Regions from separate parts of the Homo sapiens genome. Here region 1 is reported to be linked to region 2. Evidence: microRNA targets listed by miRTarBase, many of them from high-throughput screens and not tested one by one. Region 2 holds a microRNA gene; the other region holds the end of a gene's coding sequence.

Region 1 (5,380 bases), not on the chromosome of region 2:
AGAGATTTTATTTTAGCCCTTTCTGCTTTGTGTGTTCTGACCTTCCCTGTCAACTTGTGTAAAGGAAGAGCCCTTTTGTCACCTCAGTCACTGGTTTTGCGTGAAGCAAAGCTGGAAATAATAGACTTTTCCTAAGACGGACTTTCTTAGAATTTTATACTCAAGGACAAAAATGAATCAAAAGCAAGGAAATACTGATATGACCATAAATATTTTTATTAAATGTGAAAATACACGGGCATAAAAATAGTACCCATATTTGTAGACATGTCTGAGACCCATTTCAAATATTAGGTTCCTTTTTTATTAAAACACTACATTGAGATGGATTAAGTTACTTAGTCTTTTCTCATTCAAAACAAACTAAAACCTCACAGCAAGAGTAATATTTTCACAAACATCTCCAATGTTTACCTCCTCCTTGCTCGGCTTTCCACTGCAGGTAAGTGTTTCAGCCACAGACAAGTGCAACAAAACCGGTTACTATACACAAAGCCACGCAGTGGCTAATTTTACTCTTAAATCAATCATTCAGCAAATGAGATCATCTGTAAACAAACAAAAAAAACCCCCAAATAATCCCACCTCTTAACGTCATTTGAAATTACAGGATAAACTGCCACTAACAAAAAAGGAATGATCTGATTTAGAAAAAGGATATTCGTTGTTGGCAAATTAACATTTGCCTTCTTCCTTCCTTTATAAATTTGGAAAAGTCAACTACATTCAACAAAGTTGCGTGAACTTCTCTAGGTGATACCATTGCTGTGTGCTCAGTGAAAACTTTGCAACGCCCATCACCAGGGCCGTGTCTGTAACCTCACCAGGGAGCCATTTTATGTAGTTTTTTCATGGTAAATGTCAAAGACAACTTCTGACCCATTTAAAGGTGAAATTTTTCATCATCCATTGTGAGTAGAAAATGGTATCAATTTCAAATTGTGGTTTTATTGGCTACCTTTTTTACCAAGTTATGTTTTCTCTTAAACTGTGGGTAGTTTTAAAATTCCATTATCAGGGCAACAAAAATTTGTTTTCATACCAATACTTTAAAAAAGATTTTTAATACTGACTAAAGAGAAAGGCATTGTAGAATTAGTAGTACGTTACATCTGATTCACATTAGTAAACTGTCAAGATTTTTTTCAAGTTTTCATCTATTCATGGTAAGAAAGCACAAACTTTCAGAACTGAGGAATGAATTAAATTTTGTCTCCCGTTTTGGAACCTTTTCACAATGCTTCTAGACTGATGTGTCTAATACTTCCTGCTGGGCAAAATATCCACAAAGTACAGACCACTGATAACTCCACCCATGAAGCTCACCAAAAAGGAAAGAAGAGCAGAATACAACAGCTGTGGCTAGGGTACGCCTCTCTGATTTCACTTTTCCTGAAAGAGCCATAAAGGTTACCTGATGGCCAGGCGCAGTGGCTCACGCCTGTAATCCCAACACTTTGGAAGGCCAAGGCGGGCAGATCACAAGGTCAGGAGATCAAGACCATCCTGGCTAACACAGTGAAACCCCATTTCTACTAAAAATACAAAAATTAGCCAGGCATGGTGGTGCGTGCCTATAGTCCCAGCTACTTGGAGGCTGAGGCAGGAGAACTGCTTGAACCCGGGAGGTGTCCCTGCACTCCAGCCTGGGCAACAGAGCAAGATTCTGTCTCAAAAAAAAAAAAAAAAAAAAAAAAAGGTTACCTGGCACCTGTAGTCCCCAAGGGAAAATGAAAGTAGTATGGTTTTACAGTGGATAATGCTACCCTACAGTGAGACAGGCAGGGGGAATGACTATCTCTTTACACACCCAGGCTGCTTCTCAGTCACACATTAGGGTAAGCAGGAGTGACTGTCTCTCCGTTTGGGTGGACACCAGAAAACTGCCGACAGCCATCAAGGCTGAAACTCAACAGTTGTTACTTTCTTCATGAATCAGCGAAACAACAGATTGCAGAGAATTCATTTCCCTCCATGGCACTGGCATGTGGCACCAGAGCTGCTTCTCTCTCTTCACTGAAAACAGGCAAGTAACTGCAGGTCAGTTAAGATGACTAAGTAAATCCATGATAAGAATTTAGGAGCTGAAACTATGGTTGTTACAAGTGGAGAAAAAATGAAAATGCAAACAAGCCTCTGGGCAGCAGGTGGGAGGTGGCCAGGCCCCCACACATCTCCTGTGCGGCCCTTGACCCCTTGTTGTTGGCAACTGTCGTGCTCTCCAAGTGGAAAGGCAAGTGATTTGATATTTCCTTTTTTTTCTGACTCTATGTGAAAATTCTTTTCAAAGTAGGTAAAAGCCATCACTATATTTCAAAGAGGTCACAGTGACATCATATACAAAAGGAACCAGATTGAAAAAGATATTGCTGACATAGCCAGTAGTGAGATTACTAAAGAATAAACAGAAATGCCTTGGAAATTATTTTTACACCGGCTTGAATTGAAACATTAAAGCAAAATGAAAGCTGTAAGGTGTTCACTAGTTTTCCAAATGCGTTGTCAAGTTTATTGGTAAGAAATAGACTCCTAAATAGATGCAGAAAGCACTTAAGTGTTCTGCTCAATTCAACTATGTGATTTTTGTCTCTCAGTTAAAAATTTGTCCACCTATGTTTCAGGATATGACTACAGACGAAAACGATTTGTGCTTTGCTGTTATGGATGTCCGTGGTCAGGATGCCTCCCACAGTGAATTAAAATGCTTGATTTCATTAAGAAAAAAAAATTAGACCCTTTAATGGTTAAAACACTTCAAAATGCTTTGAGGCAGAAACAAAACCTTTCCAGAATAAAGGTAGCAATTCCTATCTATCTAAAGTAATTCCTTCAGCTTTCAAATGCAGCATCAAGAGTGCCATAAATATTCAATATTCTTGATTAACATTTTTTAGGGAAAAAGCATTCAGTATACAAAGACTGAATAGTTCACTTCTTAAATAGTATCTTCTTAAAAGGTAAGAAGAACATATCTCAAGAGGAGATGCCATCTTATTAAATGAAACAACAGTGGAAATATAGCCAGACCTGACTAACCTTGCCTGTATTTTCTTGTAGGCAGGAGAAAATCAGAGGCATCAAGATCTGGTAGAAGGGCCGGTCTGCTGTTTAACACATACCAGCAGACAGGTCCCACGTGGGAGGCACCACAGACCTTTAAGATAGGGTGAAGCCTTGATAGAAGGAGAAACAGAAGCTGCCCACTGTCTTTACTTAGAAGTGGAGAACATGGCATTCTGTATTTATTTATGTTGACTGCGCAACTTTACGTTTCTAAACCAGTCTTGTTACATGAAATTCCCTATAAAAACTCAGAACTTCAGTTGTTTAAAAAGTATTTCAATCTGCACTTCAGCAATATTATTTTAAATACCACCACTATTTTATCTGAACTTATTTTACCTATAACAACTTTTAATTTGTTGTGTTTAATATTAAAAGGGTCCATAGGAATTTATAGATTCAAGTTTCAGTATTCTTCTTCAGGTACTGAACCAAAAAAATGTACATTTAACATTAATCCAAAGTCTAAGCCTGGATATATTATTATTTGGTGGCAGGGTTCCTAAAAGATGGTCTCTTGCTCCTTCAGTGACAGCCACGTTGACAGACCACAGAGGTGCAAACACATGCACACTAAAGATTTCACAGCTACTCACAAGTGACGAGACTGACCACATCGAAGCACAGTTGTCCCTAAGAACATACAGCTCAAAAATGTTCATGTTCTCTTTAAGAATACTGAAGTATAACCATCCTCATGAAGATTACAGCTCCTTCTTACACTTGTAGGCACTGACTTACTCTGCAAGGCTGTGAAGAGAAGAATCTCAGCTCCAGTGTAGAAAAATAATACAGAATACGTGAGCACTTCCACGGGTGAGCCTGCCTCAGACCACTTCCCTCCAGACAGCATAAAGCAGATGCAGGCTGCTCTGTCAGAAATAGAACCATTCCTTGCCTCCTTGCCGTTGCAAACCCATTAACCATAAATCTGACAGGGATAAGAACAGATTTTTTCCTATTAAAGCAACTCTTTGGTCATGGACAAACTGAAAAGATTTGAAATTTTTTTTCATTAGGGTCCCGGAACAAGATTTCTTTGTTTTTAATCTTTAAAAAAATTAAGAAGAGCAGAAAAACAGTTGGTTTAATTGAAGTGGAATTTAAATCTAAATGGTCCGCCTGAGCTGAAGGGATTGAACCCTTGCCATGAGTTCCAGCTTCTGTGGAAAGGGTTGCCGCCGCCTCCTTGCTGGCTCTCTGCATCCAAAGGATCTTCTCCGTCGTCAAACTTCTTTCTCATTTCTAGAAAGAAATCAGAAAATTAAGAACCAGATAATATCTAAGGTATAGGGGCAGGGGGAATGTTTTCTTTGGGCAGAGGAGGGTGGGTGGGCTTGAGGAGCTACTTACTTTTCGGTTATCAAGAGTTGTGCCTGACATTCAAATCCAGGCTCTCCCATTCCCACCCTGAAGAAACAGACTAGAGAAATTTGCCACAAGGAGGGTGAGGTTCAGGGTTGATAATAGGTATTTATTGAGATTCAGGCCCCTAAATCTCACTCCAGAAGAAGCCACCCAAGCTTGATAACTACCCAATGAAATTATTTGGAAAAAAATAATTCAAGAGAAACTTCCAAGAGTCTACAATTCTAATGAAACAGCCAGCTCACCACCCTAATCCCCAAAATAAAGTCTGTAAGGCAATGACCTCATCAAGCATCTAATGAGCATTCTAGCACTAAGGCTCCTCAGACATGAGGGGAGCGGGGCCTCCATAACATACAACTCCAGGAGGTTCACCTTTCCCTCCCATGCAATTGGTGCCCCCACAGCGGGGCCTCTGAGCCCCGAACAGAGAGAGATCAATGCAGAGACATGGGAGAAGGCAATAAAGAGGAATATTGCAGGGATAGGAAGAAAGAGCTCATGTCCTCAGAGTCATTAGAAAAACCCTGGAAGACAACCTAGGCAAATACTATTCAGGACATAGGTATGAGCAAAGATTGCTTTTGGTGTTTCCATCATGAAATTGCAACAAAAGCAAAAATTGACAAATGAGATCTAATTAAACTAAAGAGCTTCTACACAGCAAAAGAAACTATCAACAGAGTAAACAGACAACCTACAGAATGGGAGAAAATTTTTGCAAACTATGCAACTGACAAAGGTCTACAAAGAACTTAAATGTACAAGAAAACAACCCCATTAAAAAGTGGGCAAAGGACATGAACAGACACTTCTCAAAAGAAGACATATATGCGGCCAACAATCATATGAAAAAAAGCTCAACATCACTGATCACTAGAGCAAATAATTAGATCATTATTGCAAATAAAAAATGGCTATTATTAAAAAGTAAAAAAAATAGATGCTG
Region 2 (5,380 bases):
TTTTTGTATTTTTAATAGAGACGGGGTTTAATCATGTTGGCCAGGATGGTCTCGATCTCTTGACCTTGTGATCGGCCCAGCTTGGCCTCCCAAAGTGTTGGGATTACAGGCATGAGCCACCGTGCCTGGCCAACATTATTTTTTTAAAAGCTGTATTTTTATTTTATTTTATTTTTTGAGATGGAGTTTCACTCTTGTTGCCCAGGCTGGAGTGCAATGGCAGAATCTCGGCTTACTGCAGCCTCCACCTTCCAGGTTAAAGGGTTTCTTCTGCCTCAGCCTCCCAAGTAGCTGGGATTACAGGCATGCACCACCACGCCCGGCTGATTTTGTATTTTTAGTATAGATGGGGTTTCTCCATATTGGTCAGGCTGGTCTTGAACTCCTGACCTCGTGATCTACTCGCCTCGGTCTCCCAGAGTGCTGGGATTACAGGCGTGAGCCACCGCGCCTGGCCTCCAGAACATTTTTATCATCCCCAAAAGAAATTCCCAAACCTATTAGCAACCACTCTCATTTTTGTCTCTCTTCAGCCTCTGACAAACACTAATATGCTTTTTTTTTTTTTTTTTTTTTTTGAGATGGAGTCTACCTCTGTCGCCAAGGCTGTAGTGCAGTGGTGTACTCTCGGCTCACTGCAACCTCTGCCTCCCAAGTTCAAGAGATTCTCCTGCCTCAGCCTCCTGAGTAGTTGGGATTACAGGTGCCTGCCACCACACCCAGCTAATTTTTGTATTTTTTAGTAGAGACGGGGTTTCACTGTGTTGGCCAGGCTGGTCTTGAACTCCTGACCTCAGGTGATCTACCCACCTCGGCCTCCCAAAGTGCTGGGATCACAGGTGTGAGCCACCGTGCCCTGCCGTGTCTTTCTTCTTTTACTTAGCATCATGTTTTCAAGGTTCATCCATGTTGTAGCATTAATCAGTACTTCATTTCTGTTTATGGTGAATAGTGTTCCATTATAGGTATATACAGCATTTTATCCATTCATCAGGTGGACATTTGGATTGTTTCTCCTTTTTTGCTGTTATGAGTAATGCTGTTATGCACATTTATGTATAAAGTTTTGTGAGGACATATACTCATTTCTCTTGGGTCTATACGTAGGAGTAGAATTGCTAGGTCATGGGGTAACTCTGTTTAAGCTTTTGAGGAACTCCCAGACTGTACTTCCCACAGTGGCTATCCCATCTTACATTCCCAGCAGCAGCATATGAGGATTACAGTTTCTCCATATCCTTGCCTACACATGTTATCTGATTATAGGCATCCCAGCAGGTGTGAAGTGCTATCTCATTGTGGTTTTCATTTGCAGTTCCCTGGTAGCTAGTGATGTTAAGCATCTTTTCATGTATTTATTGCCCATTTGTGTATCTTCCTTGGAGAAATGTCTAGTCACATTCTTTGCTCATTTTAAAATTGTATTATTCATCTTTTTACTATGGAGTTGTTCTAGATACAGGTCCCTTATCAAATATATGATTTGCAAATATTTTCTCCCACTCTGTGGGCTGCTTTTTTACTTTCTTGATGTGGTCCTTCAAATCACAAAAGCTTTTAATTTTGATAAAGTCCAGTTTATTTATTTTTTCTTTTGTTACTTATGCTTTTGGTGTCATAGCTAAGACAGCTTTGCATTATTTTCAAGTATTCATGGAACATTAACCAAAATTAACCATACACTGGGTCACAAACCAAGTTTCAGCAAATTTTAAATGATCGAAATCCATTGTAGCATGTTTTCTGACCACAACAGACTTAATCTAGACATCAGTAATAAAAAGACAACTAGAAAACCCCCAGTTGTTTGGCAATGAAGCAGGAGAGTTTTAAATAAATAACCAATGGGACTGGGCATGGTGACTCATGCTTGTAATCCCAGCACTCTGTGGGGCCGAGGCAGGCAGATCGCTTGAGGTCAGGAGTTCGAGACCAGCCCCGCCAACATGGCAAAACCCCGTCTCCACTAAAAATACAAAAATTAGCCTCACATGGTGGTGCACACCTGTAGTTCCAGCTACTTGGGAGGCTGAGGCAGGAGGATTGCTTGAACCCGGGAGGCGGAGTTGCAGTGAGCCGAGATAGCGTCACTGCCCTCCAGCCTGGGCGACAGAGGGAGACTCCGTCTCAAAAAAATAAAATAAATTTTAAAAAATAATTAATGAGTAAGGTAGAAATTGTAACAGAAATTAGAAAATATTTTTAACTAAATGATAATGAAGATACAACATATCAAACTTGTGATGTATAGCTAAAGCTGTGTTTAGAGAGAAATTTATAGCCTTAAATATGTGCATTAGAAAAGAGGAAAGGCGAAAGTCAATTATGTATCAATCTCAAACACTACAAAATAATTAGCAAGTAAAGTGAGAGAATGACCATGTGGCTACCTGGGGAACAGAGGGAGAAAGACTTGGCTCTGTTGGGGAGGAGCACGCCTTAAACAGGCTGGCTGTAGGTTTGCGTGGGTTTGTAGCTTAGCTCTCTGTTAACCCTTCACTAGCTGAGGGACTTTGGGCAAATATTTTCCTCCTGAGTGTCTGTTTTTCCATCCATAAAATAGGTAGAAAGTCCCACCTCCTGAGTTTGTTGTAAGTTTTTTGTTTGTTTGTTTTTGTTTTGAGACAGAGTCTTGTTCTGTTGCGCAGGCTGGAGTGCAGTGGCGTAGTCTCGGCTCACTGCAAGCTCCGCCTCCCGGGTTCACGCCATTCTCCTGCCTCAGCCTCCTGAGTAGCTGGGACCACAGGTGCCCGCCACCACGTCTGGCTAATTTGTTTTGTATTTTTAGTAGAGACGGGGTTTCACCATGTTAGCCAGGATGGTGTTTGTTGTAAGTTTTAAATGAGTCTACATGCAAGCAGTAGTAGCTTAGAACAGTGCTCAGCACCAAGTGGGTGCTGTCCTAATTATGAGGATTGTCTATGTCTTTGTGAGAGTCTTTCACATCTCACGGGCCACAAGCCTGTGTTTTCCCTGCTCTGTAGGCATGAGGCAGGGCCCAGGTTCCATGTGATGCTGAAGCTCTGACATTCCTGCAGGCCCAGTTCCAAGGCTCCGGCATCCTGTGTCTCACTGAGCACTGCTGCCCGATGGCCATCCCCAAGCACTCCCTGAGCCCAGTGCCGTGGGAAGAGGACAGCTTCCTTCAAGTGAAGGTGGAGGAGGAAGAGGAAGCCAGCCTCTCCCAGGGCGGAGAATCCAGCCATGACCACATTGCTCACTCTGAGGCTGCACGCCTGCGCTTCCGGCACTTCCGCTATGAGGAGGCATCTGGTCCACACGAGGCCCTGGCCCACCTCCGAGCGCTGTGCTGTCAGTGGCTGCAGCCCGAGGCGCACTCCAAGGAGCAGATACTGGAGCTGCTGGTGCTGGAGCAGTTCCTGGGTGCGCTGCCCCCAGAGATCCAAGCCTGGGTGGGAGCCCAGAGTCCCAAGAGCGGAGAGGAAGCCGCTGTGCTGGTGGAGGATCTGACTCAGGTGCTGGACAAGAGAGGTAAAGGGGCGCCGTGGGCAGCTTCACGGCACACCAGAGATACACCCTGGACAGGAACATGGGAGCACAGGGCTCTGGTTTGGGGTTGCTCATGCACCCATTCTCACATTTGTACTTTACCGTAACTCTCACACACTGTTGTAGACAGGTGTGTTTTGGTTGCAGGTGACCAAAAGCGAGCTGAAATGGGCTGAAGCAAAGAAGGGTAAGGAGGCAGCAGATACGGCTATATCCAGAAGATCTGTTGACAGCATCAGAACTCTCTTCTTCCTCTCTTGTTCTGTTTCTCAGTTGGTTTTTTCTGTGTTAGCTTCATTCTTATTTTAGGTTCTCTTTCCAAAGGGGTTAAAGATAGCCAGGAACCCCAGGCTTATGTCTTACCAATGTAGAAACCCCGGGGTAATAACAATAAGAGGTCCCTGGTCTGAGCCCCCACTGGCCTGGTTGGGATCTTATGTTTGTGTTTGGCCAACCAAATCCCAGGGACTAACAGTGAGCAACTGGCTGTTTCTCAGAGGAAACCAGACGAGGGCCTGGGTGCCTGGGGTGGCTGTTGGGGGTGACGGAAATACCAGATGTCCCTGTGTACCTTCTCTATGCCCACCCTGGGCTGGCCTCCAGGATTTGGGTGGGTCAGACCTGCCCCAGGCTCAGCTGGGCACTGTTACTCACAGAGACCCACACAAACATCCCAACCCAGGGAGGTCCAGTGGGATGCAGGGAAGACCCAGCCTTGGGACAATCCAGAGCAGGGAGTGGTGGCTCGTCTCAGATGGGCTTGGCCTGGCCTATTGGCAACAGATAGGAGGTGGGCATACCACACACTGGGAGGAAACGTGCAGTGTGCAGGAGGAATGTGGAGTCTGGATACAGCTGCATCATCAAGGCTCAGTAGATCCAACCGCTGCTGCTCTTCCTGGCCATGTGACTCCCTTGTGCCTCAGTTTACTCATGGGTAAAATGGGGATTGTAATAAAAACGCCCACCTTAGTGGTGTTGCGAGATACAAGGCAATACCCGTGCAGCACCTGAAATGGTGCCTGGCACAGATTAAATAAATGGTAACTGCAACTGTTAGGATAATTTGTTCAGCTCTGGGAGAAACAGGCCTCTCTGGAACAGAGGTTGGTCTATGCCCAAGCAGATGTCACAGAGACAGGGAGAGGAAGGAGGGAGTGGCCCCATCCTCCCACAGGGTTGGCCAAAGCTCAGAGAAAGGGTAAAATGCAGAGGGAATGGTGGGGTCAAAGGCCTGGCAGTGTGATTTGCACTGGTGTATTCTGGTAAAAGCAGGTGGTGTGATGTTTCTGGATAGAGGAAGGAAGGGGGAGACAGGGCCAAGCAGATGGCTGGGGGAGCAGGGGAGACTGCCTGTGGACCTGGAGGAGAACATTCTGGAGCTGAAATCCCAACTGGGCCACTAGCTAACTGTGATCCTGTACCAGTTACTCAACACCTTCCCTCAGCTGGATTTCAGTTTCCCCATCTGCAACAGAATCACAGCAGTACCTCCTTCTGAGAGCAGGTCGAAGCTGAAATGAGGCGATGGAAGTCACCCACTGTGCTTGGGGCCCAGCACGACAAGAGCCTGATAGTGGTTAGTGGCCCTGGAAGGCCAGCGGCACAGCATCCATGGCTTACAGATGGGGAGACTGAGTCCCAGATGAGGGCAGGACTGATTAAGGTGGTAGACCTGGGGTTTGAGTCCAGTTTCTGCACTGCTGAGCCCCACTGTGGACTTGAGCAGTGGGTATTCCACCTGTCTCTGCCTCCTCCCTGGAATCCATCCAGTAGATGTGCCAGATTATGTGTCCTTTGCACCCATGCAGGGCAGGTCAGTGCGAGCATTCCTCTACCTCATGCACACTCTGATCTCCAAGAGCACCTC

Evidence for each region. Region 2 holds the annotated microRNA hsa-miR-6806-3p (UGAAGCUCUGACAUUCCUGCAG, at 3,017-3,038, shown strand). A microRNA usually pairs through its seed, bases 2 to 8, with sites in the 3' UTR of a target mRNA and lowers its output. Matches are read on the target gene's strand: a 7mer-m8 pairs with bases 2 to 8, a 7mer-A1 pairs with bases 2 to 7 and ends in A, and an 8mer does both.
Region 1: the mRNA of DNAJC3 is a reported target of hsa-miR-6806-3p. Seed matches in the 3' UTR shown: 8mer at 1,317-1,324.

Annotation. Positions count from the first base shown.
Region 1 is chr13:95,789,801-95,795,180 of GRCh38, reverse strand. DNAJC3 (DnaJ heat shock protein family (Hsp40) member C3) reads right to left here. Exons shown (of 12, transcript NM_006260.5): 12 at 193-4,308. The coding sequence ends at 4,151. Among named protein-coding and RNA genes, the nearest start is that of DNAJC3, 120 kb to the right of the region's middle.
Region 2 is chr19:58,331,714-58,337,093 of GRCh38, forward strand. MIR6806 (microRNA 6806) reads left to right here and starts at 2,975; the gene lies at 2,975-3,038. It overlaps ZSCAN22 (zinc finger and SCAN domain containing 22), which reads left to right. Exons shown (of 3, transcript NM_181846.3): 2 at 3,039-3,492. The coding sequence starts at 3,090.